7 linked regions of the Homo sapiens genome follow. The protein of the gene in region 6 purifies or fractionates together with the protein of the main gene of each other region. This does not show direct contact. Each region holds a gene or a part of one and is shown on either strand. Other genes may lie near its edges.

Region 1 (3,457 bases), on a different chromosome or scaffold from region 6:
ATATCAGAATGCTTCCTAGTATATTATTGGAGAAAGAACAAACAAAAGTTTAAATTGATATAAAATGCATATAATGGAACAAGCAACCCTGCAAAAAAAAAAATATATATATATATATACCATCTGGGAATTTCTGATAATAACATTGAAATCTGTTCACACAGTCTAAAATTCTTTTGATGTATCGTAGTTTTGAAAAAAAGGTAACAGTTTACTATATATAACAAATATAAGGAAAATATTAAATTTTTTGAAAGATACTAGTTTTTATTTTTGTTCATTTTTTAGAGACAGGGTCTCACTATGTTGCCCAAGCTAGAGTGCAGCGGCCCGATTATAGCTCACTGCAGCCTCTAACTCCCGGACTCAAGGGATCCTCCCACCTCATCCTCCTAACTAGGACCACAGGCGCATGTCACCACATCTGGCTGATTTTAAAATTTTTTTGTGGAGACAGTCTTGCTGTGTTGCCCAGGCTGGTTATGAACTCTTGGCCTCAGGCAGTCCTCATGCCTCAGCCTCCCTAAGTGCTCGGATTATAGGCATGCCACTGTGCCTGGCCAAAAATACAGATTTTTTAATAGATATTACTATGGCTCCTATTCTTAAAGGAAAAAATATGACATTTTAAGACTATATGCAAGGGATATTCCAATAATATCTTTTTTATTTAAAAAGCCACTAATTAGAATCAGATTTCATTAGGCAAGTGAAATCCAGATTTTACTAGCCAGAAACTGCCAGGTGTAGAAACAGCAAGAACATTTTAGTCACTTCATTGTTGACATTTTTGACTATCATAGATTAAGTATCAAACACAATAACAGTATTTTGTTATATGAACCAAATATATCTCTTTTTACGAGACATAGTCTAGCTCTGCCATCCAGGCTCAACTCCTGGGTTCAAGGGATCCTCCTGCCCCAGCTTCCTGAGTACGTACCTGGGAGTACAATTGCATGCTGCCACACCCAGCTATTTTTTTTATTTTTGTGGAGATGGCGTCTTGCTATGTTGCCCAGGCTGGACTCCAACTCCTGACCTCAAGCAATCATCTCACCTTGGCCTCAAAAGTGCTAAGATTACAGGCATGAGCCACTGCATCCAGCCTGAACCAAATATATCTTTATTATAACTTAGGAGAGAAACGTTTTTGGCTGGTTAGTTTTACAGAATTAAACCTAATGGTTGTTCTAATAGCAGTTCCAATGATTTGCAGATTTGAGGAAGTAAATTATTTTCTTACAGTGTCCATAAAAGTAACAATGAAACTATATCCTACCATAATAATCCTCTATAGGTAATAAATTATTTGCATTTTATAGGAGAGAAAAATATATGTTAAAGTTTTTGAACAGTCACACAGGCAGGAAATAAATGGCAGTGAATTTGAACTTGGACTTATCTTGGACAAGCTCTTAACTGGTATATATTTTGTCAATCTTATGTCGTGCACAAGAATGATGTTTTTATAAATGGAAAGAATGAGTGTGGAAGTGTCTTCACTTGCCTAACAGAAAGGTTATATGTGGCTGGGCGCCGTGGCTAACGCCTGTAATCCCAACATTTTGGGAGGCTGAGGTGGGCATATCATCTGAGGTCGGGAGTTCAAGAATAGCCTGACCAACATGGAGAAACCCCGTCTCTACTAAAAATACAAAATTAGCCAGTCATAGTGGCACATGCCTGTAATCCCAGCTACTTGGAAGGCTGAGGCAGAAGAATTGCTTGAACCCAGGAGGTGGAGGTTGTGGTGAGCCAAGATCGCGCCATTGCACTCCATCCTGGGCAACAAGAGCGAAACTCCGTCTCAAAAAAAAAAAAAAAAAAAGTAATACATAAATTTAAGTGACATTTGTGGGTACTAAATTACAATAATATGTTCAGCTTTGCATTTTTTTGCCTTTAAAATTAATTTCAATTTTAGCGTGCCACTAAACGTATTACTGTAATAGTATATAAATGTATAAAGATCAATTTCTGTATATTCTAATAGGAATTGTATATAAGCAAAAATGAATTTTAGAAATTATCCTATTATTCATGTAATTATGTCATTCATGTTATTTAAAGGAAACCACAATGCAGACAGGTTAAGTACCTAGTGTGAAGGTATGTAACCAATTAATGGAGCTGTGCGACATACATCTGAGTAATAAAGACTACAGAGAAAGTATCTTGTTAGGTACTATCTGATACAAAGTTTAGAAACATGTCAAACAATTCTATGTATAGTTGGTGAAAGTGTAATAACATGGCTGAGACTTAATACCAGATGAAGTTCAGTGGTTTCAGGGGGAGGAAATAATTTTTAAAACGATGTCGATAACACTTCACATTTAAAATCATCATAATAATTCTAATTCTAGAATTGTGTCTAATTCTAATACTGTTTCTAGCTTTGCTTGAATAAACAGAAATGTAGTAGGGAAGAGACAGAATGTTTAGCTTGCAGTATCTAATTACTCATTTGGGTATCTGGGAAGATAGCTCTCCATGGCCCCACTGTCACTGACCTATAATGCTTCTCCTGACGTCTTCGGTAAAATCCAACAGATTACAAAGAAACTGGAATGCCTTGAAGAAATAGAGCTTTTTGTGTGATGTCAGATTCAATAGACCTCTAATCCTTAGTAAAACAGTACAAAACAGTAGAATAATTTTTAGTGTTTTCTAATATCAACTGAGGTTTTATTTGGGAGATTAACCAGAGGTTTGCACAAAAACAAAAGTGAAGACCATTAGTCTTTAAAGAAACTAAGACTCTAGGTTTGGATCCCATTTGTGGAGCCCTACATTCCAAGTCATCTAATGTTCTTGTCTAGTTAGCTTGTAAAAGTCTATACAATGGAGGAAAACCCCTTTTTTCCCCTTAGTATAAGTGTATTATATGTTGATAGAAAGGATAGAAAGTTAAATAACAGTTCAGTAAATGTACTTCTAAATGAAATTTAAAAGTACTTTAAAGGTGTTAAATTATTTCACTTTCTAAAGAGGTTTTATGCAACACTAAAATGTAATGACTGAGCTGCCTCCTTTTGTTAAGAGACTAGTGCAAGTAGAGTCTTGCTCTGTCGCCCAGGCTGGAGTTTAGTGGCACAATCCCGGCTTGCAACTTCTGCCTCCTGGGTTCAAGTGATTGTCGTGCCTCAGCCTCCCAAGTAGCTGGGATTACAGGTGCACGCCACCACATGGGGCTAATTTTTGAATTTTTAGTAGAAACAGGGTTTCACCATGTTGGCCAGGCTGTTCTCAAACTCCTGACCACAAGTGCTCCGCTTGCCTCAGTCTCCCAAAGTGCTGGGATTATAGGCTTGAACTACCACGCTCTTCCTAGTGCAAGCCATTTAAACATTGTATCCAACAGCTAAAGAAAGAATTCATTCCACAGGCATTTATGAAATATGAGAGACTTGACTCCTGTCCAGGAGAAGCATCAGCAGCTAGCTCTACATTA
Region 2 (3,500 bases), on a different chromosome or scaffold from region 6:
ACTAAGGAACAAGCACCAAATTTGGGAGTCACAGTTGTAAGATAAAATGCAGGGCGCCCAGTTAAATTGAATTTCAGATAAACCACAAATAATATTTTAGTGTAAGTATATCCCAAATGTTGCATGAGATGTACTTATGCAAGAGATATACTTATGATTAAAAAATTATTCATTGCTTATCTGAAACTCAGATTTAAGTTGGTGTCCTGTATTTTTCCTTGTGAACTCTGGTAACCCTTGAGTCAGAATACCTGAACTTAAGCTCCAGTTGTATCACTTAAGTAAGCATCTAACCTTCCTAGGTCTGTTTTCCCCGTCTGTCAAATGGGGGTAACGATATCAATGCGTGGTGTGGGGGTTATGATGAGGAATAAAGGAGAAATACTTCAGAACCTATGACGTGCTGCTACATGAAGATTTCAGTCCTAGATATGTGTGACTTAATATAAATTTCCACCCAAGTGCTAGTTAATTAGCCCCTGAGCCTTTGATAGTTAAATCTAAAATCCTGTAACCCATCTTTCCTTCGGAGCTTCTGGGAATGGCTGTTTAAATTATACACATAATTGTGTAACTGTCTATGAATCCAGGAGAACGGAGACAAACCCCAGGTAAATGCGAAATTTAAGCCATTCTACAGGCATGTTATTAAGTAACTGAGCTGATGAAACAATTTAAATTAAAAAAGAAAGAGAGAGAGAAAAAAGACGCCATTTAGAGCTATGCGTGACAGAGCACGAGAGAGAACTTAGTTTGCAGTAAGTGATGGCTGATAAGGGACAAGGCCAAGACTCATTAAAATGCTGGGGGAAAGCAAAATGCCTCATAAAATGTGATATCATCAGCCTGGAAATTTACAGAAAGAAAAAAATGACTGCAGAAGATGGCAGCCTTTCTTATTTATTTATTTTTAAACAGGGTCTTGCTCTGTTGCCCAGGCTGGAGTGCAGTGGCATGATCATAGCTCACTGCAGCCTTGACCTCCTGGGCTCAAGTGATCCTTCTACCTCAGCCTCCCAAGTAGCTGGGACTACAAGTGCGTGCCACTACACCCAGCCAATTCTTGTATTTTTAGTAGAGATGGGGTTTCGCCATGTTGCCCAAGCTGGTCTCATGCAATCCACCCACCTCGGCCTCCCAAAGTGCTGGGATTACTGGCATGAGACACCATGGATCCTTGATGTAAGGAGTTCGAGACCAGCCTGGCCAACATGGCGAAACCCCATCTCTACTTAAAAATACAAAAAATTAGCCGGGTGTGGTGGCGCACACCTGTAATCCCAGCTACACAGGAGGCTGAGGCAGGAGAATCACTTGAACCCGGGAGGCGGACACTGCAGTGAGCCGAGATTGCGTCACTGCCCTCCAGCCTGGGTGACAGAGTGGGACTCCATCACACACACACACACACACACACACACACAGAGTCAAGTGACTATGACCTGGGAGGATTCTATCAGACAGATCAGTGACCTGGGCCTATCCAGTCTGGGTGAATAGATGTTAACTGAATGCTGACTATGTTGGACGAGCCAGTTTCTCCATTATCTCATTTAATCCTCATAACAGAGATATCACCTTTATTTTGCAGAAAACCTAAGCAGCTTGTTCACGTTGGCATGGTTAAAGTAGTAGAGCTAGGATTTTAAATCCTGGTCTCTTTATTTATTATTTTATTAAAAAATTTTTTAAAAATAAAATATTATTATGAATAATTTTAGAGATGGGGTCTTGCCATATTGCCCAGATTGGTCTCAAACTCCTGAGCTCAAGTGATCCGCCTGCCTTGGCCTCCCAAAGTGCTGGGATTACAAGTGTGAGCCACTGCGCCAGGCCTTAAACCCTGGTCTCTTGACTACAAATCCTGACTTCGCTTCATCTTGTCACTCAGATGCTTTAGCATCTATTTTGTTATTAGGTCTGAGATAAAATGACTTTCCCTGAAAGTGTTAACTGCCCTTGAGAATCACGACAAGGCTCACAGACTATCAACAGATAGTGTAGACCTCCATAGTGCTAATCTCTTTTCTTTTCTTTTCTTTTTTTTTGAGGCGGAGTCTCACTCTGTCGCCCAGGCTGGAGTACAAAGGTTCGACCTTGGCTCACAGCAAGCTCCGCCTCCCAGGTTCAAGTGATTGATTTTCCCACCTCAGCCTCCCCAGTAGCTGGGATTACAGGCCCCCATGACCATGCCCGGCTAATTTTTGCATTTTTAGTAGAGACAGAGTTTCACCATGTTGACCAGGTTGGTCCTGAACTTCTGACCTCAAGTGACCTGCCTGCCTTGGCCTCCCAAAGTGTTGGGATTACAGGCGTGAGCCACCGTGCCCGGCCATAGCACTAATCTCTGAAATTCCACTTATGTGCTTAGTTAGGTAGAATAACTGGATAGACAGGCTGCATAGTTACTTCAAAGGGTGGAGTCCAGAAATGCCTGGAGAAATTCCAGGGACAAACACACAGACTCCAAACAAAAACCAGCCCCCTACACAGTCTGTAATCTTTCCAAGGGCATATATATGGCAATGTGTGAGGGGAATGGTTTTTGCAGAAGTTCAGGATGGACGGCAGTTAGGAGCAGGGAGAGGCTGAGGGTGGAAAGGTGGAGGTGGTTTAGGGGAGGTGCATTTTGGAGGAATGGATGAATAGAGAGAGTAATGGGGACAGAGCTTCCCACCTGGACAAAAAAATAGGATGAGGAATAACAATGGATACCGAAAATTCAGGATCTAGTTGGAGATTTTCATGCCATTTCCAGGTTCAAGGGGTAGTCTGGAAGATGTGGCTTGAACATCTAAATGTCAATTATCTGTGATAATTTGAGGTGGTAGTGGTGGTAGGATGCAGGGGAGAACCAGATGCACTATTTGAAATTTTGGGACAAATTGGTATGTTTTTGATCATTAGAAAAGCATAGCTTGGGCCAGGTGCAGTGGCTCACACCTGTAATCCCAGCACTTTGGGAGGCCGAGGCGGGTGGATCACCTGAGGTCAGGGGTTCAAAACCAGCCTGGCCAACATGGTGAAACCCTGTCTCTACTAAAAATACAAAATTAGCCAGGCATGGTGGCGCATGCCTGTAGTCCCAGCTACTTGGGAGGCTGAGGCAGGAGAATTGCTTGAACCCGTGAGGCAGAGGTTGCAGTGAGCAGAGATGGCGCCACTGCACTCCAGCGTGGGCAACAAGAGCGAAACTCCGTCTCAAAAAGAAAGAAGAAAAAAAAAAGCAAAGCATAGCCTGGGCCGGGCAAAGTGGCTCACGCCTGTAATCCCAGCATTTTTGGAAGCTGAGGTGGGCGGATCAGTTGAGGCCAGGAGTTTCAGACCAGCCTAGCTAACATGGTGAAACCCCATCTCTACTGAAAGTACAAAAATTAGCTGAGTGTGGTGGTCCGCGACTGTAATCCCAGCTACTCGGGAGGCTGAGGCATGAGAATCACTTGAACCCAGGAGGCGGAGGTTGCAGTGAGCCAAGATGGCGCCACTGCACTCCAGCCCGG
Region 3 (2,699 bases), on a different chromosome or scaffold from region 6:
CATCGAGCATGATAAGTGATGAGTCACTAACTTTGTATTTACCTCTCTCTCCATGCCAAGGTTTTCAAACTCTTATACCAATTGTTTCCATTGTAAGTGCAAAAGAAAGAAAAAGCTAGTCCTTTACGAGCTCTATTTGGAGAGGGGATGGCTTGGAAGGAATCAAGGGACACTTGGCACTTGGGTGAACAGAAATTCAAGAAAAAGATCACACTCAGCTCTGAGAACCTTTAGAGTTGTGGAGTGAAATGCTATGCACAGTGGTAAATGGTTGCTCTTGAAGTCCTTCGAATCTTCAGTTGAGTTTACAGGAATCACCAACTGCTGAATGTAACTGCCTTTGTTTTGGAAAATGTTAAGAGTCAAGTCTGCATATTGGTGGGCATGGGGCCACAACTGAATTGGCCCACAAGACCATAACAGGATGAGCCAGCACTGGCAGGGGACATCTGAATCACTTAAGGTTGATTTCAGCAGACATGGCACCAATACACATAATCTATAAACAAAACTTTTTATTACAGTGCACTTATTGTAGTTGAAAACATGCAGCACCATTTGAAACAAAGAAGATTCAGAAACATGGAAATAAGTTTTGTATCTAAACATAAATGGATGGTAAAAATTAAAGTTTTCATTTTTTAAGGAAAAGCATATTCATTTTTGTCAAACATTTACAGTAATCCGGGTTAAAAAGCTATAGTTTTCATGATTCTGTTAAGTCTATTCTTCAAAGTATGCTATGTGAGGTTGACCTAGAGAACACTTGACCACATCTACTTCTCCACCTCCATTCTTTGCCCGTTGAAAGTGAATGTTAATTAAATCCTCCACAATTTCTTCATCCATTTGAATGCCTTCCATTCCTGTCAGAAGCACTGTCCTCTTAGATGTTCCTGAAAATATCTAAGAAGGAAAAAATGATAAATAGAAAGATTTCTAAGAGCTTTGAATTACAAAACTTTACATTCATAATCTCTGCTTAATATTTTTTATTTTATCTTAGAAGAGACAAGAAATCTTAGGAAGATTTTCCAAGCAAGAGAATATCCAAGTCAGATCTGAGTTTTAGAAAGAGAACTCTGGTGGCATTATGGAACACAGAGGAAAGGAGGGATGCTCTGGGAACAGAAAGACCAGGTAAAGAGGTAGTCAGAAGTGGAGCTGGCAAGATTTAGTGACCAAATGAATGTTGGAGGTGAAGCAAACTGAAGAGTTAAGTATGAGTTCTAGCTTTTAAGTTGGTGGAGTAGGTAGATGGTGGTACCATTGGATACCTGAGAAGGAAGAGGAAAAGGGAGCAGGTCTGGGGTAAAGATAATGAGTTCAGAGAAAGTAGGCAGGAATTCTTTCTCATGCTCACTGACAGTAGACATATGAGAGAAATGCAACTATGTCTCCATGTACAAAAATAAAAATTGTGCCATTATCTGAGTAATTTCAGTTTTAAAAATTGTATAATAAAGTACAGTTTTGCATTAAAATGCTCCTTCAAAAGACAAACTCATTTTGCACCAAGCAAAAATGAAGTAAAGAAACCATTTTGCTATCCCTCATTGATAAGATGCATAAGTAACAGACTCACAACAACTTTATTTTTTGTGGGGTGGGTTTGGGCAGTGAGTTCTGAAAATGAGAGAACAGAGATGACTTTACCTGATACTTTTTCAAGTGTATTTCTGTGTATGGAGAAACAGTAACTCTATGGCAGGTTTGATTTATATAAAGAGGGTATTCTTTCTTTTTCAAAATCTTGTCAGCCACTAAAAGCAAAACAAAAACAATACTTGTCTTTTTTATATCATAAGCATTTTTAACCAAAGTTAAAACTTCCTTCAAAGAGAACACTATTACAGTAAATATTGAGTTAAAAGATTAATTTTTAAGAAATTCTAAAGCCCACTTTGAAGACTTCACAGTACATAATTTTGAAAACTACAAGACCAAACAATAATGAGGTTTAAAGCCTTCATTCCATCTTGAATTATTCACTGCAGTCAATCAATGCACAAAGGGTTGCAATGTCCTCAGACAGATCTACTTTGAGCTATAAAAAATACCATAGTCTTTTGCAGAAAGTAACCCACTCATCTAACAAGACTGGACTGTTTCCCAGTTTCTCAAAAGCTGTAAGTGAAAACTATGATTAGAATACTATATACATTTTTTTCAATATATTCAATAAACTGAAGTAATGATGTTAACCAAAGCAGGGAGGGGATTGAATGTCATCTAGAAAAACTGAAAGGAAATAAAAATTCATCAGTTTTCTACAACACAAAGAATAGTCTATTTTTTAGCAGTATTTTTTTCTCCTAGAGTGGTGAAAGGATGTGTGTCAAGACTGTAACATTTAACAAAAACAGTTCTTGGGAATATACAACCATGTTTTTTATGACTCTTCTCACTCATCTACCTTGGATCAGCAATATGGTACAATGATTAAGAGTGTAGGCCCTCATTGGCGAGAATATGGAGAAATTGAAACCCTGAGGCAATGCTGATAGAAATGTAAAATGGTACAGCCACTGTAGAAAACAGTATGACAGTTCCCCAAAATATTAAAATAGAACATGATATGATCCAGCAATTCAACTTCTGGGTATATACCCGAAACAACTGAAAGCAGGGACTCGGACAGATACTTGCTCGTTAATGCTCAGAGCAGTATTTTTCACAATAGGCAAAAGGTGGAAGCA
Region 4 (3,500 bases), on a different chromosome or scaffold from region 6:
ATATTTTTTTCTTTTTATGTTTTTCACAATACATACTTCTAACTGCAAGACCTCTTTAAGAAGATGACTAAGAAGGGATTCCCCCAGTGTTTCTCTAAATAGCTGTTTTGTTATGTAGACTCCCCCTCTCTTTTTGGGGGGTACGTGAGCTTCTTATCACTAGCCTCAGATCCAGATACTTCTCTAAATATCTTTCTTATAAGTTCCTTATTTTTCCTTTCAAGAAGTTGTGAGCTTAAGGTTTCACCTCTTGCCTCTGAGTTCCCCGTTTTGTGCTGGAGGAAGCTCTAAAGAGAATGTCAAATTGGAGATGGGAAAATGTTCCCTTTGAACTGTGGCATGTTCTCTTCTGGAGGGAAGTTCTCAGCCTGACATGTCTATTTAAAAATAGCTGTGGGAGACCATCCAATACCTCCCTTTTCCCCACCGCTGATCATCTTCCCCAGGCCTTAGATACCCCTGCTTCTTCATCCCATAAATATCCCTAAGCCCTCTCTATGGAGAGGGGGATGTGAGACCTGTTCTCCAGCCTCCTCACTTGGCAGTCTTATGAATAAACCCTCTCGTAAAAAAAATAAATAGAAAAGAAAAGAAAAGAAACGCTGTGGGGAAGATGGTGATGGTCCCTGGGGACAGCTGTCTACTCCAGGAATTGATCCTTGGCAATCTGCATCCTAAACTCACGTCCTGCTGTTGGGAAGCCACAAAGCCATGTGAAGTCAGAAAACAGGCCGACGATGAGTCCTTGGGATTGTATTTGTATCAGCAGAGGATTCTCAATCCTCAGGGTTTTTACTTCTTGGCTGTGACCCACATTGTTCATGTCTTGACTTGGCAAATCTCAGTTTCTGACAGCAAGAAAGGTCCTTAGAGTCCATTCGATGAGCCTGTAAACTCTCAGATCAGATTCCCATCTGTGCAGCCTTTCCCTTCTCCTTCCCTCAGCCACACGGGTGGGGGCGCTGGCATGGTAGGACCCAGGACTGTCTTTAACATGGGGGAGGCAGTCATGGGAATGTGCTTGCTTTCCGGGAGGCTTTAGATTGTTCTCTGTCACTTCTACTCTCTGTGCTTCCTGTTTCTTTCTCTTCCTCTTTATTTACTCGCCAGTTCTTACAAGCTTCCTTTGTGCTGGGTGCTGAGCGGATACCAAGATGAATAAGTGTAGGCTCTGCCTGCAAGGCAGTCCTCCCTTCCATTGCTCTGGGATTTTTGTTGTTGTTGTTTTAAGATGGAGTCTCACTATGTTGTCCAAGCTGCAGTGTAGTGGCTATTCACAGGCATAATCGTAGTGCACTGCAGCCTCGAAATTCCGGCCTCAGTGATCTTCCTGCCTGAGCCTCCCAGTAGCTGGGACTGCAGGCACCCACCATCGCACCTGGCCTTCCATTGCTCTGTACAGGGTGACTGGCTGTCCTAGTTTGCTAGGGACTGAGTGAGGGTTCACAGGACTTGGGAATTTCCATTTGAAAACTGGGACAGTCCCAGACAAACTGGGAGGAGTTGGTGACCCTAGGTCTGTGCCTCATTATACTTTTCTTCCTAACAATAAGTATAACTTTTATTTATCGAGTGCTGGCTCTGCCAGCCACTTTATATGTAGCATCTTTCTTCAGCTTTAAAACAGCCCTGTGATGTGGGAGTCCCCATTCTGCAGAGGCCCGACAAAGTTGGGGATGCATGCATGAGGTCATGCTATTTTTTTTTTTGAGAAGGAGTTTCACTCTTGTTGCCCAGGCTGAAGTACCAAGGTGCAATCTCAGCTCACTGCAACCTCTGCTTCCTGGGTTCAAGAGATTCTCCTGCCTCATCCTCCCGAGTAGCTGGTATTATAGGCATGCACCACCACACCCGGCTAGTTTTGTATTTTTAGTAGAGATGGGGTTTTACCATGTTGGTCAGGCTGGTCTTGAACTCCTGACCTCAGGTGATCTGCCCACCTCGGCCTCCCAAAGCGCTGGGATTACAGGCGTGAGCCACCGCGGCCAGCCGGGGAGGTCATGGTATTAAGCACGGAGCCTGGCTTTACACCCAGGCCTGTCTGTGTTCTTAGTGAGGGCGCTATACTGCATCCTTGCTCAGGAGGAACGGCTCTGAGATAGAGGGGTTATTTCACACCAGACTCCCTCAAAGCTCTGACACACTAGCGCAAACCCTGAGGGAAGCTGCAGAGGCAGGTGTGGGGGCTGTGGCGCTCCCGCCCTCTGCTGGCCAACCTGGACCTGCAGCTCAGCGATGGCCTCTTCTATTCATTACAGACAGTTTTAATGGACCAGTCTCGCTTCCACGAGCTCCAGTTGCAGCTGGAACAACTGACCATCCTGGGGGCTGTGTTGCTGGTCACCTTCAGCATGGCAGCGCCAGGAATTTCCAGCCAGGCCGACTTTGCTGAGAAACTCAAGATGATTGTGAAGATTTTGCTAACAGATATGCACCTGCCGTAAGTGGAACTTTGATGCGTGGATGGGACGCAGTGGATGTCAGAGAGCCGACTGGAGTCTCCCAGAGGGGTCTCCCACTGTAAGGCAGAGCCCAGGGCCACTCTCTAGGAACTGAGAAGAAACCTTGCTGTCTCAGTTGGTTCACTTGGCGAAGACCCCAGCAGAGTTTATTTAGGGTCATAGGGTCAAAGTTAGAATCTGCTGCAGGGTTAGCAGAGCTCTAGGATAGTGGCTTCAAAATGTGTGTGACTAGCCGAGTAGCCTGTCGGGCCTTAGAGGCCACACCAAGGAGTTGGGTTATTGTCCTAAGAGCAGTAGGGAGCCATTGAAGGATTTGAAGCAAGAGGGGGAACGTAATTAGATTTATGCCCTTAAGTTTAAATTTTGGCATGGGGCACATAGTAGATGTGAGGGAGCATTTAGGAGGCGAGAGAAGAAGTGGCTCGGGCTGGGGGGTAAGCCATGAGCAGGGTGGGGAGCGCTGGTACCAATGGTTGCTTGCCTTGAGGAATTGGAGATCCCGGGCTTAGAGGTCCCGCGGCCCTCCATTCCCTGTTAGCATGCTCCTCCCGGGGCCTGGCTCGGTGTTGAGTGCCATCAACTCATTTGTTCTCCCTACGCAGGGAGCAGGATGCTGTCTGACCCCTTCCTTCTTTAATGGGGTTGTCTTTGTCTCCTGACCTCCAAGGTTCTTGTGTTTGTTTGTTGAGTGCTTTATTCCTCTCCCAAAGCCATTCAAATGTATTAAACTCTTACTGGAGCTTATGAAGAAACTGGAACCCAGAGACATTAATTGGGACAAAAATGTTTGTGACTAGGACCTGCAGTAAGAAATTCATTTTCCATTGTGACCTAGTACACACTTAACACACGTGTAACAGAAACGAAAACTTCTCAAACTGGAACTGACCCTAACTGTGTTTAATGCAGCCTGATTGTTTCTACTCTATTCTTATTCCATTAAAAAAAAAAATTGGTTGCTACCCACTGAATTGCTTTCATAACCGACTAACAGTGAAAAGCAGAGCCCTAGAGGAAGGTCATGAGAGAAACCAGCTA
Region 5 (3,500 bases), on a different chromosome or scaffold from region 6:
GGGCGTGTCACCGGAGAGTATGGGCGGGGCGGGCAGAGGGGCAGCATGCTGGCCAGAGTCCTCTTGCTGGCTGGAGTCAGTGCCCACAGAATCCTGTCCTGATTGTGTCTCTGAGTTGAACACGGTCTAGTGGGAGGAAAACAGGATCAGTGAGGGCTCCTGGGAACATCAAGAGCCCAGGAAGTCAGGGGCCAGCCTGGTGATGTCTCTGGGGATGAGTCCTGCCTCCCTTCCCTTGGTTCCCGGTACGGCAGTTCTCTCACCCTCTGGGGTGTGTGGATGGGTGACAGCATGTCCAGGTCAGTCATGGGGAACTCCAGGCCTTTCCTCCGCAGGTCCTCATAGATGGTGACCACACCTGTCAGATCGGGCGAGCTGCGGAACGCGTCAGCCCAGGACTGAGAGGGGACAAGGGGACACAGCCGGTAACCACAGCTCACCTGTGAGCCTGCCCACCTGGCACTCAGACAGAGAACAGACATTCTTTCCCTGCTTTTTTTTTTTTTTTAACTACATCTGCCCTGCCCACTCCACAGCAAAGCACGCAGTTGGCAAGCCTCCCTCCCCACAGAACATCCCACCAGCCGACAACCGAGACGCCCCGAAATGAGAAGCGGAGCCTGGGACAAACACGATGGCCTCGACTCTCCACTGGGCAGGAAGCTCCTGCACTGACAGCTCTTCCTGGCCGTGCCCTGCCCTGTCCTGGCACTCACCTGGATGAGGTTGAGCACTTTGTCATGCACGATGGTGGGTGGGTTGTTCTTGGGCAGGATGGTCCTCACCAGCACACTCTCCACGAAGTCCTGGCTGGCCACCAGCACGTGGAAGCGGTGCCCGCAGTTCTTGACACAGGTTTCTAAGACCTGGAGGGCCGAGAGGTGCCGTCGAGCACCTTGGTCAGAGGAGAGGAGGTGCTCAGAACCCCCACCCTCGTGGCTCCTCCTGTGTCCCAGAGAGGAGGCCCGGGAGAGGAGATGGGACTTCCTGGAGTGAGACCCTTGAATGTGGAGGACTGGGACAATGCCAGGACTGGGGGACTTGTTTACTGGAGGGCACGGCCTAGGGTGGGCAGAGGTATGGTGTGTGGGCTGGACTTCCTTCCCTGACTGGCGTCAGTGCACGCAGAATCCCAATGCTGTCTCTGAGCTAAACATGGTCTAGAGAGAAGGGGCTCTCCAAGAGGAAATCAAGGAGCATCTGAGATGTCAATCGACTGGTGAGCCTGTGGCCCAGGGAAAAGGCACTGAACTTCCCTCCCCACTCTCCACTTCCCACTGCAGGAATTGCCTTTGCTTTTTGCTTAAGCCAATTCACCTGGATATAAATGCTGCTTGTGGAGGAGGGTGGGACAGCATTTATATCTTCCCCAGCCAAACCCATGCTGACGGCTAGGAGGCCCACGTGTGTCTGGCCGCCCTGAGATCTGGGCTGGTTCAGTGGTGTGGGCAAGACTGTTCTCAGCCACTGGTATTTATTTTACATTCATTTGCCAGAGCACCAAAGTGCCGAGCAGCACCCAACTCAGTCAGCCGGCCTCCCTGCCCCCGCGGAGGCCTGGGTTTACTGAGCTTCAATGTCACCCACAGGTCCTTTGGCCCAGGCTCTCCCTGCCAGTGGTTCTGGAGTGATGTAAGCGTCTGTTCCCATGCTGGGGGATTGGGGAGAACCTTTCCAAATGGCCTCTTGCCATTCTGCATCCGCCTGCAGTGTAGACAGGACAGTGCGTTGCCTACAGACCTTTCCAGCTCTCAAATGAGGAGCTCAGAGGAGGCTGGGAGTCCTGCTGGGTCTGAGGGGAGGTGACTTTCAGTGGACCGTAGTCCTGCCACAGGACAGACAGATGGGGCACTCACTGTGAGAGCCAGCATCACCTCGTGGAAGTTCTTATTCCCCACGATTCTCTTCTTTACTGCTCGGAGGGCATCTTTGGGACTAAGGAGGACAAGAAAAAGGGTGGGCTTAGGAATAGAGCCCCCTTACCTAACACCAGAGACCCTGGAGAGTTGGAACAGTTCTTATTGGCCCATCCTCCCTGTGCCCCACCTGTTTTGTGTATCCAGCCAGGTTCTGATCACATCAGAATCTTCCTAGCCCATTGCTTAGCAGGGACTCACAACCTGTGGCCCCTGGACCTCCAGCAGCAGAGTCACTTTGAGAAAAGATGAGAGCGTTTTGTTAAAAGTGCAGAACCTGGCCGGGCGCGGTGGCTCATGCCTGTAATCCCAGGACTTTGGGAGGCTGAGGCAGGTGGATCACTTGAGGCCAGGAGTTCAAGACCAGCCTGGCCAACATGGTGAAACCCTGTCTCTACTAAAAATACAAAAATTTGCCGGGCGTGGTGGTATGACCCTGTAATCCCAGCTACTTGGGAGGTTGAGGCGGGAGAATCGCTTGAACCCAGGAGGCAGAGGTTGCAGTGAGCCGAGATTACGCCACTGTACTCCAGCCTGGGCAACAGAGTGAGAGCCGAGATTGCGCCACTGTACTCCAGCCTGGGCGACAGAGTGAGACCCTGTCTCAAAAAAACAAAGGACATTCAAAAAAAAAAAGCAGAACCCTAGGTCCCCACCCTAGACCACCTGAACCAAATTCTCAGGGAGTGGGGCCCCTGAATCTGAATGCTTCTCATGCTCCCCAAGGGTTTCTTATGCATGCTCAAGTTTAAGAACAAATAACCTGGAGGCATAATGTTTTCATTACAAAAATAGAGATGGGGTCTTGCTATGTTGCCCAGGCTGGTCTCAAACTCCTGGGCTCAAATGATTCTCCCACCTCGGCCTCCCAATATGTTGTGATTACAGGCATGAGTCCCTGAGCCCAGCTAGCATAGTGTTCTGATGCCCCGTCCTGGCCAGCTGCTCTATCTGTCCATTTACCCTTCCATTCAAGTTTTTTTTTTTTTTCCTTCTGAGACAGAGTCTCACTCTGTCGCCCAGGCTGGAGTGCAGTGGTGCAATCACAGCTCGCTGTAGCCCGGAACTCCTGGGCTCAAGTGATCCTCCTGCCTCAGCCTCCCAAAACGCTGAGACTACCAGTGTGAGCCACCATGTCTGGCCCATTCAACTCTTATTAAGCACCCAATATGTATGTAGCACCATGCTAGGTGCTGGGGACACAGTGGCAAACAAGACCATATGGCCCTGCCTCCTCCCCACCTTGCGGGGAGATCCAAAGAAGAGCAAGGAATAAGCAGGTCCTGGAAAAAGAGCAGAGGTGAGGATGGGGGTGGTCAGAAAAGACCTCCGAGGGGGTGGTCTTGTAGTTGGGCCTTGAAAGATGGGAAGGACCACCTGGGGGGAGTGGGGGCAGAGCAGTTTGGGTCAAGGTCAGAGCCTGGACCAAGGTCTTGGGTGCAGAGGAGCTTGATGCCTTGGAGGAACTAAGAGGAGGCCACACTGAGTGTGGGGGAGGTCGGGGAGGGCTGAAGAAGCCTAGGGGTCACGGTGTTGGGAGGCCCCTGGAAGCTGGGGTGCCAGCCTGCTCTCCCTGTCCCCTCT
Region 6 (3,500 bases):
TTATGATCCAATAGATAACTAATACAATAAGCTGTGTTTATATGCATAATATTTACATCAGGAAAAGTTCGGAGAAAATAAACAACTTATCTCTTGGCACTAGAATTTCATAAATTTAAATTTAGTATTTTTCTTGCTTATCTTTATTTTCTAGTTCTCCTACAAATGAGCATCTATTATTTATATAACGTTAAGAACTAAATGTAAAATGGGTCCTTATTCTCTCTCACCATGCCACTAAACCCTTCCTTATCTGCCATGATTACCCTCAACAGAGTATTTGCATCATCTACAAAGAAATGAGATTTGCTAACTCAACCTGACCCCTACATGAATTATCACAATTTCAAAATAAGTTATCCTATGGGATTTTACCCCACTGAAAAAAACAGCAGTTGAATACATATCAGAAGCTTACCGAGTAAACCACTAACATCAAGACAGCATGAACATGAAAGTGAGTACTAATTAGCAGCTAATTATCTGCATGATATTTACCTCTGCTATTTGGAGAATACGGTCCATTATGGACATTCGTGCTTGCCCAGGCTGGGTGAGGAGGTTCCCGTCAAGGCGAGAAAAATCAAAAGGGATCAGGCAGGTCACGGAGAGCCAGAGCAAAAGCATGTAGCGGGTTTCCCAAGCCTAAAAAATTAAACCACGGGAAGAATGAGTCTTGCTTGAAAATCACAGGCCACTGGCCACAATCTACTCAAAGTCACTGCCCTCCATGCCCACCCAATGCCTATGAAAGCCATTCAAATGCCATCACCCTCAGGGCCAGAAATGCAAGCCGTTCACCAACTCCTCGCCACATCCCCCCCGGAATCCCCACCACACACACCTACCGCCGTAACTTAGCTCAGCAGACAAGAGAGACATCAAAATGAACAAAGAAAAATCATAATACATCAGTATAGCAGCTTCTCTTCGCTGGCACCTCTCCACATACAAACTGGCCTTTTGAAAAAGTGAAAAACAGATAAAAAGTAAAAACACCTAAGAATAAAGAAAAAAGGCCAGGTGTGGTGGTTCACACCTGTAATCCCAACACTTTGGGAGGCCGAGACGAGCGGATCACCTGAGGTCAGGAGTTCCTTTTTTTTTTTTTGAGATGGAGTCTCGCTCTGTTGCCCAGGCTGGAGTGCAGTGGCGCAACCTCGCTCACTGCAAGCTCCACCTTCCGGGTTCACGCCATTCTCCTGCCTCAGCCTTCTGAGTAGCTGGGACTACAGGCGTTTGCCACCATGCTAGGCTAATTTTTGTATTTTTTGTAGACACAGGGTTGCACCGTGTTAGCCAGGATGGTCTCGATCTCCTGACCTCGTGATCCGCCCACCTTGGCCTCCCAAACTGCTGGGATTACAGGCACGAGCCACCGTGCCTGGCCGAGGTCAAGAGTCCTAAACCAGCCTGACCAACATGGAGAAACCCTGTTTCTACTAAAAATACAAAATTACCCTGGCGTGATGACACATGCCTGTAATCCCAGCTACTCAGGAGGCTGACACAGGAGAATCGCTTGAACCTGGGAGACAGAGGTTGCAGTGAGCCAAGATTGTGCCATTGCTCTCCAACCTGGGCAAGAAGAGTGAAACTCTGTCTTTTTAAAAAAAAAAGAATAAAGAAAACAATTATCAACTTCTAATAAAAAAGGAGTACCCTTATTTTCAGTAATTAGTAAAAAACATCCCAATTTGTCCCTGCAATCATTCCACTGGGGGGCGCTAGAAGTACTAGGGAAAGAAGGGCACGGAGTGCAGGGCAGCAGGGAAATGCCCCACAGCGCTCATCAGTCACATCCACGCCGAGACAAGCCACCGCACTGCACGGTTATAAACCGTGTGCTCCTCCAAATACATACCACGCAGAAGACAGCGAGCATAGCAGGCCCCGCTGCCGTCTGAGGCAAGGCCCCTGACGAGGCCGGCCCTGGGCTGGTATCCAGGGACCTGGACACCAGCAGGGTTCCCACCAAGCCCTGCCTGATGAGGTCCCTCGCTGGCTCAATCTGCACAAACCGTGTGCTTTACGCTGGCACCTGCTTTCCTGCTGGGGGTCTGGAATTTCGTTTCGTGCCAGGCAGAGGTGTCCATGTGGCCAGACCCCAGTGAAAGCTCTGGGCACCAAGTCTCAAACGTGCTTCTCTGATAGACACCTCACAGGTGTGGTCACATCTCACTGCTGGGGGAATGACACAGGCCCTGTGGGACCCAACTGGAGGACCCCGGGAGCTCCCGCCTGGTTCTCCCCAGACCCCACCCATGTGCCTTTTCCCTTTGCTGATTTTGCTGTGTATTATTTTGCCATAACAAGTGACAGCCAAAAGGAGGACTCTATGCTGAGTGCTGTGAGTCCCGCTCAGGAAGTATCAAACCTGGGGGTGGTCTTGGGAACCCAACACAGTTATACTTACACAGTTAAAAAAACATAGAAACAATGACGGATTTATTGTTAAACTACACCTAGGCATAATTTTTTTTATAAAGGGGCTATTTTAAACGAAAATAATTTAAAGCAACTTGTACAAGAAGTAAAGGAAAAGTGAAAAGAAAAGAAAGAAAAGAGGAGTGACACAAAACAAAGGGAGATAAAATGAAAGAAACAGGAAGGGGAAGGTGCAGCAGGGTGGGGCAAGCAGGGAGGAAGGACAGGCACGGAGGGCTGGAGACGAGGGGGGAGGCAGAGACACTCACTTCATGGTCCTTGGGATTCTGAATTGTGACCAAATCTAAAACAGGCTCTACATCGGCAACTTCATGAGGAAATAAACGAAGAAATGTTTTATAGCCTCGAACCTATCAAATAAAGAGATGCTGAATTATAACATTTAAAAATACAGAGAGCAGCAAAATTGCCTTTCTACCCTTTCATCAAAAATCACCAGCTACGCGACCCACTGATCAAAGAGAATTCTGTGACATTACAGTGACACAATTTAGTAAGACCGTAGTCACCCCAAGAAAGCTACCCATGGCCAAGAGCGATGGCTCACACCCGTAATCCCAGCACTTTGGGAGGCCGAGGCAAAAGAATAGCTTGAGACCAAGAGTTGGAGACTAGCCTGGGCAACATAAAAAATTAAAAATTAGACAGGATGGTGGCACATGCCTGTAGTCTGAGAGGATGAGGCAGGAGGGAGAATCATTTGAGACCAAGAGTTCGAGGCTGCAGTGAGCTGACTGCATCACTGCACTCTAGCCTGAGTGACAGAGCAAGACCCCATCTCTCAAAAAAAAAGATTTCCTTCCTAAATTGGTAGTGTTATTCATTACCATATTTACGGAATCAGTCATTAAATATGTTCATTTATATGACTGTCCTCTGACATTTATGAGGAATAAGTGCCTACAAACCGCAAGGGCCCAAATTCATTAACACTTCCCTGAAGCTCAGTGATACCACGCCTTCCGGAGAAATCCTAACCTCAAACAGAGGAGCTACAGAGGCCTGCGTGTCCTTGGCAGCTCACCCGCAGTGTCCTCTCGCTGGCCAAGGAC
Region 7 (3,500 bases), on a different chromosome or scaffold from region 6:
AGCAAGAACTGTATTTGAAATTTGGTTAAGTTTTTCATTTGGTTATCTTTTGTGACTAGTTCCAAAGAGGTGTTTGAAAGCTCGAGAACATTTTGGTACAGTAAAAACACATCTAACATCTTTGAAGACCAAATTTCCTGCTGAACAGTATTACAGGTTTGTAAGAAAAATAGCATTATTTTATAATGTTAAGTAAAAAAAAGGAGAAAAATTATGTGTACCAAATGATTGCTTACAACTAGGCAAACATCCTGTGTAGAAGTAACAAAAAGAGAAAAAACCGAACTAATAATGGTCATGACAAAAATTGGTGATTTTATTTTTTTCTTCTTTTTACTGTCTAAATCTTAAGGAACATGTATTACTTTTGCAGTGAAAAAGCAATTAAAAAGAAAATGTGGTATGAGGGTCAAAAGTGAGAATATCTTTTTGCTATATTCAAGTTTCTTGTGAAATTGGATGAACTATAGTTAGTGAAATAATGAGATTAGGTGGCAGTATATATATGGAGTCGAGTTTTACTTTGAAGCTTGAATTTCACTGCCAAGTGATGTAATTAGCTAATATTTTATGCCATGTTTTCTTATTAAAATCAACACTGTTGATTTTAAGATACACCATTATTTTATGTACCAGTAGGGAAGGAAAATTTTGCCAGTCATAAATGTGAAACATGGGCCAGGCGTGGTGGCTCACACCTGTAATCCTAGCACTTTGGGAGGCCTAGGTGGGCAGATCACCTGAGGTCAGGAGTTTGAGACAGCCTGGCTAGCATGGCGAAACCCCGTCTCTACTAAAAATACGAAAATTAGCCAGGTGTGGTGGCTTATCCCTGTAACCCCAGCCACTTCAGAGGCTGAGGCAGGAGAATCGCTTGAACCAGGCAGGCGGAGGTTGCAGTGAGCCAAGATTGTGCCATTGCACTCCAGCCTGGGCAACAGAGTGAGACTCCATCTAAAAAAAAAAAACAACTTGTGAAACATGGATTGTGAAATGTCTCCTGGTTTCATAGGTGTTAAACTGGGAAAAACTGCACCTGAATCAAAAGTTTCTACTTATTTTAATTTTCTTACTGAAAAAGATGTTCTTTTAAGACGTATATATCAGCAGTAAATAGGATGAGTATTTTCAGGGGGTGGGTAGTATAACCTTATGAGAATATTCTTTTAAGGGAGAGGTTGACAAACCACTAGTGGCTGCTGCCTCTGGGAGCTAAGAATTGCTTTTGTTTTTTCAAGAGTTGTTAAAAAAAAGAAAATCCCAGATAAGAATATGTAACAGTGAAAGCGTCCCACAAAGCCTAAAATATTTACTACTTGGCCCTTTACAGAAAACATTTGCTGATCCTTGCTGTAAGGCAGGGGTTCCCAACCCCCAGGCCATGGACTGGTACTGGTCTGTGGCCTGTTAGGAACTGGGATGCACAGAAGGAGGTGAGCGGTAGGTGAGCGAGTGAAGCTTCATCTGTATTTACAGCCGCTTCCCATCACTTGCAGTACTGCCTGAGCTCCACCTCCTGTCAGATTGGTGGCAGCATTCGATTCTCATAGTAGTGCGAACCCTATTGTGGACTGTGCATGCGAGGGATCTAGGTTGCATGCTCCTTATGAGAATCTAATACCTGATGATCTGAAGTGGAACAGTTTCATCCTGAAACCATCCGCCCCCCTTCTGTGGAAAAATTGTCTTCCATGAAACCAGTCCCTGGTGTTGAAAAGGTCAGGGACTGCTGTTGTAATAGCTGAAGCACAGAGAGAGGTAGGACAGTAGAACAGGTGGGGTCTTTAGAGACCATCTTCTCTGGAGGTCACACACAGGCTGCCCTCTGGCTGGATTTGGCCTTCAGAAGGGTTTGTGTGACCTGCATTATGTTGAGACCTTTTTTTTGAATGTATTGCCACATTTGAGAATCAGGAGGCATTGCATAAATATCCACAGGTTGTAAAATTTCCTTTTTTCAGGCTTCTAGCTCAGTATTCTATTTTAAGTGCATTTGTTTAGTGATTGCAAATGGTAATTTTGTGAATCAGAATTTTCTTGGTATTCTGCACTCAAATCAAAATGGAGGAATACGTTGAGGATGATACATAACTGCAGTTGTCTTCAATCATCAGTTACAAATTTTTATTTTTTTCAGAGCAGTATCACTGTTCTTACTGATTAAATTTAGAAGGCACAATTGCTCTTGTCATCTGTAATCTTCAGTTTTCTTTTTTCTGTCTTTTTTTTTTTTTTTTTGAGACGGAGTGTCGCTCTGTCGTTCAGGGTGGAGTGCAGTGGTGTGATCTTGCGCACTGCAACCTCTGCCTCCCAGGTTCAAGCAGTTCTCCTGCCTCAGCCTCCCGAGTAGCTGGGACTATGGGCGCCTGCCACCACGCCTGGCTAATTTTTGTATTTTTAGTAGAGAGGGGGTTTTGCCATGTTGGCCAGGCTGGTCTTGAACTCCTTACCTCAGATTGATCAACCTGCCTCTGCTTCTCAAAGTGCTGGGATTACAGGCGTGAGCCATCGCACCCGGCGTAAATTTTCATACTCATCAAAATTAGACCATATTTGTCACTGATTAAACTTAATTGTTATAAATTCGAACTTGTAAAATTAATGCTAAATGTCATATTTCTCTTTATATATTGGGGGTTTGTGTAAGATTTTATTTGAAAAATGATCGCATTTCTAAACCGTTTGAACATGGCTGTATTAAACCCATCTTTCTGAAGGTCCCTAACCTTGGAGGCTAAATGTGCTTATTTTCATGCAGATTTCATGAGCACTGGAGGTTTGTGTTGCAGCGCTTGGTCTTCTTGGCAGCATTTGTTGTGTATTTGGAAACAGAAACACTAGTGACTCGAGAAGCAGTTACAGAAATTCTTGGCAGTAAGTGTCTTTATTAGTGGGATCTGCAGAATCAGGCATGGTTGCTTACTTTTTGGTGGAAAGGGTGGTTGTACTTTGTTTATTAAAACAAACAAGAATTAACTAAAAACCACTTATAGTTGTAGCTTGGTATCTGAGGATGATGCTTCCAGAGCTCTTCCAATACCCAAATCTGAGGATGTTCAAGTCCCTTATATAACTGGTGTAGTATTTGCATATAACCTATACACATTCTCCCACATACTTTAAATCATCTCTAGATTTCTTAAAATATCTAATACAGTATAAGTGCTATGTAAATATTTTTTTTTTTTTGAGACAGAGTCTCTGTCGCCCAGGCTGGAGTGCAGTGGTGCAATCTCCGCTCACTGCAACCTCCACCTCCCAGGTTCAAGTGATTCTCCTGCCTCAGCCTCCCGAGTAGCTGGGATTACAGGTGCCTGCCACTATGCCCAGCTAATTTTTTGTATTTTTTTTTTTTTTCCGAAATGGAGTTTTGCTCTTGTTGCCCAGGCTGTAGTGCAATGACGCAATCTCAGCTCACCACAACCTCCACCTCCTGGGTTCAAGCATTTCTCCTACCTCAGCCTCCTGAGTAGCTGGAATTACAGGCATGCACCACCACA

What was found.
Region 1: the proteins of TBCD (region 6) and WDR12 fractionate together in Homo sapiens (co-fractionation; one large-scale study listed by BioGRID). This does not show direct contact.
Region 2: the proteins of TBCD (region 6) and TPM4 fractionate together in Homo sapiens (co-fractionation; one large-scale study listed by BioGRID). This does not show direct contact.
Region 3: the proteins of TBCD (region 6) and NMI fractionate together in Homo sapiens (co-fractionation; one large-scale study listed by BioGRID). This does not show direct contact.
Region 4: the proteins of TBCD (region 6) and TCP11L1 purify together in Homo sapiens (affinity purification with mass spectrometry, with the first as the bait; one large-scale study listed by BioGRID). This does not show direct contact.
Region 5: the proteins of TBCD (region 6) and TOM1 fractionate together in Homo sapiens (co-fractionation; one large-scale study listed by BioGRID). This does not show direct contact.
Region 7: the proteins of TBCD (region 6) and TSN fractionate together in Homo sapiens (co-fractionation; one large-scale study listed by BioGRID). This does not show direct contact.

Annotation. Positions count from the first base shown.
Region 1 is NC_000002.12:202,873,761-202,877,217, reverse strand, and holds the end of WDR12 (ribosome biogenesis protein WDR12), read left to right. Parts: 3' UTR 1-2,957; downstream 2,958-3,457.
Region 2 is NC_000019.10:16,096,995-16,100,494, reverse strand, and holds part of TPM4 (tropomyosin alpha-4 chain), read right to left. Parts: intron 1-3,500. UniProt on the Homo sapiens protein: Binds to actin filaments in muscle and non-muscle cells. Plays a central role, in association with the troponin complex, in the calcium dependent regulation of vertebrate striated muscle contraction.
Region 3 is NC_000002.12:151,269,970-151,272,668, forward strand, and holds the end of NMI (N-myc-interactor), read right to left. Parts: intron 1,764-2,699; coding exon 1,657-1,763; intron 907-1,656; coding exon 724-906; 3' UTR 501-723; downstream 1-500. UniProt on the Homo sapiens protein: Acts as a signaling pathway regulator involved in innate immune system response.
Region 4 is NC_000011.10:33,063,572-33,067,071, forward strand, and holds part of TCP11L1 (T-complex protein 11-like protein 1), read left to right. Parts: intron 1-2,258; coding exon 2,259-2,440; intron 2,441-3,500.
Region 5 is NC_000022.11:35,320,394-35,323,893, reverse strand, and holds part of TOM1 (target of Myb1 membrane trafficking protein), read right to left. Parts: intron 2,153-3,500; exon of another isoform or gene 2,047-2,152; intron 1,936-2,046; coding exon 1,857-1,935; intron 896-1,856; exon of another isoform or gene 867-895; coding exon 717-866; intron 399-716; coding exon 264-398; intron 127-263; coding exon 1-126.
Region 6 is NC_000017.11:82,765,565-82,769,064, reverse strand, and holds part of TBCD (tubulin-specific chaperone D), read right to left. Parts: intron 2,799-3,500; coding exon 2,697-2,798; intron 646-2,696; coding exon 499-645; intron 1-498.
Region 7 is NC_000002.12:121,758,651-121,762,150, forward strand, and holds part of TSN (translin), read left to right. Parts: intron 1-59; coding exon 60-156; intron 157-2,758; coding exon 2,759-2,874; intron 2,875-3,500. UniProt on the Homo sapiens protein: DNA-binding protein that specifically recognizes consensus sequences at the breakpoint junctions in chromosomal translocations, mostly involving immunoglobulin (Ig)/T-cell receptor gene segments.